2 separate regions of the Homo sapiens genome follow, and region 2 is linked to region 1. Evidence: fine-mapped expression QTL. Tissue or cell type: whole blood. Region 1 holds a variant in brackets; the other region holds the start of a gene. All regions are shown on one strand. Distances are between the middles of the regions.

Region 1 (2,754 bases):
CTTTTGAGGACTTACTCATAAATTCTTTCCCAAGGCTGATGTCCAGAATGGTGTTTCCTAGGTTTTCTTCTTGGATTCTTATAGTTTCAGGTCTTACATTTAAATCTTTAACCCATCTTGAGTTGTTGTTATTATTATTATTATTATTGAGAGAGAGTCTTGCTCTGTCGCCCAGGCTGGAGTGCAATGGCGCAATGTCAGCTCACTGCAACCTCTGCCTCCCGGGTTCAAGTGATTCTCCTGCCTCAGCCTCCCGAGTAGCTGGGATTACAGGCACACATCACCATGCCCGGCTAATTTTTTGTATTTTTTCGTAGAGACAGGGTTTCACCATGTTGGCCAGGCTGGTCTCGAACTCCTGACCTCAAGTGATCTGCCCACCTCAGCCTCCCAAAGTGTTGGGATTACAGGCATGAGCCACTGTGCCCAGCCTTGAGTTAATTTTTGTATATGGTGAAAGAAAGTTGGTCCAGTTTCGATCTTTGGCATATGGCTAGCCAGCTATCCCAGCACCATTTATTGAATAGGGAGTCCTTTCCCTATTGCTTGTTTTTGTTGACTTTGTCAAAGATCAGATGGCTGTAGGTGTGTGGCTTTATATCTAGGCTCTCAGTCCTGTTCCATTGGTCTATGTGTCTGTTTTTGTACCAGTACTGTGCTGTTTTGGTTACTGGAGCCTTATAGTATAGTTTGAAGCTGGGTAATGGGAAGCCTCCAGCTTTATTCTTTTTGCTTAGGATCGCTTTGGCTATTTGGGATCTTTTTTGGTTCCAGATGAATTTTTAAATAGTTTTTTTTTCTAGTTCTGTGGAAAACGACATTAGTAGCTTGATAGGAAGAGCACTGAATCTGTAGATTGCTTTGGGCAGTGTGACCATTTTAATGGTATTGATTCTTCCAATTCATGGGCATGGAATGTTTTCATTTGTTTGTGTCCTGTATGATTTCTTTCAGCAGTGTTTTGTAGTTCTCCCTGTAGAGATGTGCCTGCTTCCCCTTCGCCTTCTGCCATGATTATAAGTTTCCTGAGGCCTCCTCAGCCATGCTTACTGTACAGCCTGCAGAGCTGTGAGCCTATTGAATCTCTTGTCTTTATAAATTACCCAGTCTCAGATAGTACAGGGTGAGAACGGATTAATACAGAAAATATATGTTGAAATCCTAGCTACTTGAGAGGCTGAGATGGAAGGATTGCGTGAGTCTAGCAGTTCAAGGCTACAGTAAGCCATGATCACACCATTATGTAACTGAACAGAAGGTGAGTTGCTTGCCATATGCAGAGTCCAATTAACGAGATCAGGATCTGGTAGAAATAAGATGATTTATTCCAAAGCTAGCTTAGGGGAAGAGGCACAGGCATCCTGCCTTTAAATATGCCACTTCACCTTTGGAGCAGAAAGCAGGAACTTTTAAAAGGCATGGAAGGAAGTGAGCAAGGTAGGGGGTCCTTATCTGCCAGTAGTAGAGCTGGTGACTGCTGGCATCTTCATGGGCAGGCTGGTATCTCTCAAGGCAACCTCTTTAGGGTGAGAGTTTCTTAGCAGGAATGCTTCAGTTTGCAAATCAACTGTTAACTCTTGAGAGTTCCATCTTGGAGTCCAGTTAGATAAACTTGCCCGTAGGGAGACTGGTGAAAGGGAGGTAGAAGGCTATATTTGTGGGTTTTTTTGTTTTG[C/CTTTGT]TTTGTTTTGTTTTTGAGATGGAGTCTCCCTCTGTCACCCAGGCTGGAGTGCAGTGGCACAATCTTGGCTCACTGCAACCTCCGCCTCCCAGGCTCAAGCGATTCTCCTGCCTCAGCCTCCTGAGTAGCTAGGATTACAGGCGCCAACCACCACGCCCGGCTACTTTTTGTATTTTTAGTAGAGACGGGGTTTCACCATATTGTCCAGGCTGGTCTGGAACTCCTGACCTCAAGCGATCTGCCTGCTTTGGCCTCCCAAAGTGCTGGGATTACAGGTGTGAGTCACTGCACCCAGCCTATATTTCCATTTCTAAAAGGCTAAGTAGAAAGTGGGCAACCGGGGGAAAGACAAAAGAAGAGAGAGGAAAAATTAAACTACCCACTAGAAAAATGGGGGTACTCAGTTACATTTCCCCACTGACAAATTCCATTCCATTTCTATGGGATCTGGGCACCATATTCATTCTGGCTACTTCCTGCTGAGAGGGAGCATAGCCTTTGGGCATCAGAATGGAACTGATGTATTTGGAGTTGTAAATATTCATGAGTACTTGGGCTTGCAGATGATGTTTGTTGGAGCAATATAGTGCGAGGTCTTGAGAGCCTCTGAGAGAATGCCTGTCTTGCATTCCTATACAGGGGGTGCAACAGCAGTGGACCCTACAACAGAGGGATATGCCCATCTCTGCAATCAGGGCCAATGTTACAAGCAGCTTTGCCACCAGGATGGTTCTGACCTGGACCAGGATGCTAACCGCTGGTCTAGCAACAGTGTGGGGTCAGACACACCTTTGATTTGTTGGTGCATGTTTCACATGGCTATCGAGGCACTTCCTGAATTCTTAATTATCATGCAGGTTCACCACTGCCAATTGTAAGTGGATATGATGACAGATTGGTTGGGTATATATATTTGACAGGCTACAAAAAGAGCTATGAATCCTCATGAAAGTGTCTCGTTTTTGAGAAAGTATCAGCTTAAATAGCTGTGTCTCATCCAGAAGGTGGCATTGGAGATGGGCTAGGCCTCTGCATGTGATGAAGGCAAACAGATTTTTAATAGGAGGTGTTTCCATGGA
Region 2 (2,627 bases), 39 kb before region 1:
CCTCAGCCTCCCAAAGTGCTGGGATTACAGGCGTGAGCCGCCCGGCCCGGAGTTTTCTATTCTTTTTTTTTGAGACGGAGTCTCGCTCTGTCGCCCAGGCTGGAGTGCAGTGGCGCCGTCTCGGCTCACTCCGAGCTCCGCCTCCCGGGTTCACGACATTCTCCTGCCTCAGCCTCCCGAGTGGCTGGGACTACAGGCGCCCCCCACCTCGCCCGGCCAATTTTTTGTATTTTTAGTAGAGACGGGGTTTCACCGTGTTAGCCAGGATGGTCTCGATCTCCTGACCTCCTGATCCGCCCGCCTCGGCCTCCCAAAGTGCTGGGATTACAGGCGTGAGCCGCCGCGCCCGGCCTGGAGTTTTCTTTTTTTTTTTAAGCATCACTTCATATTTCAAGAGCTCTCAGTTCTCCTGAGATTTCTAGGCTCTGTCCAGGATCCCTAAGCCTGTTCACAGTCCTACTTGAAGTTTCTAATCTTTCTTTTCTCATTAACCAAAACTGGAGAGAGGAAAAAGCCCATCATTTTCCCTGGACAGCAGCGCCTACTGGGAGTTTCACCCGCATTAACATGCAAACGACAGGCAAACTCCTAGTCATCCTTCCAAAGACCCTGCTCCACAGCCCTGCCGAGGCCGGTGCGCACCTAGCCCAGCCACTGCCCCTCACGGCCCCCGCGCCGCCCTCACTGAGCAGGGCGGGCAGCGCTGTAAGCGTAACCACTTGGGGCTTGGGGCTTCTGACCCGGGAGTCGGGTGCTGGGTTGAGTGCGAGGCCGACGCCTCTGCCGGGTGGGGAACCCGCCCGCCGGCGAGGAGCGGTCGCGGCCAGGGGCTTCCGCCGACTGGGAGGCCCGGGGCCGGGCCGGAGGGACTCGGAACCTGGAAACGACCAGGCGCGACCCCCAGAGGACTACAGGCGCGGCTTTTCTGGCCGCCGCCCGGTTCCCGCGGGCGACTCCACTCGGCATGCGCGGCGGGGAGCCTCGGCGGTGAGGCGCAAAGCCGCGGGCTCGTGGGACGGCCACCCCTCCGCAAAACCGCCAATGGGCGGGCCCGGGCCGCCGATCGCCCGCCGCGGCTTCCGGTTCCGATGACAGTGGCGCCGGAAGCCGGGGCCGGGGCTGCGGGGCGAGGTGAGAGCGGGCGGGCTTGGGAGCCGGCAGGTGCGGGCCGAGGGCGGGCACAGCGGCCGGCGGAGCTGAGGCGCGCGGCGGGGAAAGCTCGGCCGGCCTCCCGGGCCCCAGCCTTCTCCAGAACCCCTGCTACCCACGACTAAGCCCCGAACAATCTGCCCTTGGGCTTGTTCTCTTCGCAGTTGTCGGCCCTGGGCCGGGAGCTGGAGTCCCAGACTCATAGGTCCCGGCCCAGCCCCCGAAGAGCCGCCTCAGCCGGGGGGAGTTGCTCGGACTCAAACGTCCAGTCCTCGTGCGACCGCGCTGGGTCGGAAGTGAGCAGGTGCGCACCGGGCTCGGCAGGGCTATGGAGCAGGGTCTTTGGAAGGATGACTAGGAGTTTGCCTGTCGTTTGCATGTTAATGCGGGTGAAACTCCCAGTAGGCGCTGCTGTCCAGGGAAAATGATGGGCTTTTTCCTCCCTCCAGTTTTGGTTAATGAGAAAAGAAAGATTAGAAACTTCAAGTAGGACTGTATAGTAAAAAAAAAAAAAAAATGGAGGAGGGCGATATGACACGGTAACTGGTGTGAGGGTGGGGCGGAGGGGTCAGTATTAGATACTGTGGTCTAGCAGAGCATCTCTGAGGACGGGACATTTGCGTTGAGACCCAAATTAGGAGGCAGGCTTAGGAAGATACGGGAAGAGAGTGGTCCAGGCAGCGGGAACAGCCAGTGTGAAGGCCCTAGGGCAGAAATCAACTGAGAGTATAGTCAAGGAACAGAAAGCAAGCTAGTGTGGCTAAAGTATGGTAAGAAAGGGAAAGAGTGGTAGGAGATGAGGTCGGATAATTGGGGTTTGGTCACATAGAGTCTGTAGGTCAGAGAGAGGAATGTGGAGTTTTTTCTAAGTACAGTGGAAATCTTTTGGTTTTAAGCAGAGGAGTGACATGTAGGGTAGAGAGTGGATGGAGGTCGCGGCTGCAAAAGCATAAGAATTGGCTGGGCACGGTGGTTCACGCCCGTAATTCCAGCACTTTGGGAGGCTGAGACTGGCAGACGGCTTGAGCTCAGCACTTCAAGACCAACCTGGCCAACATGGTGAAACCCTGTCGCTCCAAAAAATTAGGCTGGGCGCAGTGGCTCACGCTTGTAACCCCAGCACTTTGGGAGGCCAAGGCGGGAGGATCACTTGAGGCCAGGAGTTCAAGACCAGCCTGGCCAACATGGTGAAACCCCGTCTCTACTAAAAATACAAAATTTAGCCGGGTGTGGTGGCAGGTGTCTGTAATTCCAGCTACTTGGGAGGCTGAGGCAGGAGAATCGCTTGAAACTGGGAAGCAAAGGTTGCAATGAGCCAAGATCGTGCCACTGTACTCCAGCCTGGGCGACAGAGTAAGACTCTGTCTCAAAAACAAACAACAAAAAAATTAGCCAGGTGTGGTGGGGAGAGAGGGGAAGAATAGGGACAAAAGGGAATACATAAATAAACACAAAGGAGAAAAGGCCCTGCATGGACC

What was found. PIP is the estimated chance that this variant, and not a neighbour inherited with it, causes the effect.
Region 2: it holds the start of RMND5B, and the variant in region 1 is fine-mapped to the expression of RMND5B in whole blood (INTERVAL, PIP 0.93).

The regions. Positions count from the first base shown.
Region 1 is chr5:178,168,445-178,171,198 of GRCh38, forward strand. No RefSeq gene overlaps it. Among named protein-coding and RNA genes, the nearest start is that of NHP2, 16 kb to the left of the region's middle. The variant C/CTTTGT (reference allele first, on the strand shown) is at 1,676.
Region 2 is chr5:178,129,924-178,132,550 of GRCh38, forward strand. It overlaps RMND5B (required for meiotic nuclear division 5 homolog B), which reads left to right and starts at 1,091. Exons shown (of 11, transcript NM_022762.5): 1 at 1,091-1,131; 2 at 1,314-1,453. RefSeq lists enhancers at 1-264, 265-916, 2,195-2,627 and a silencer at 648-1,237.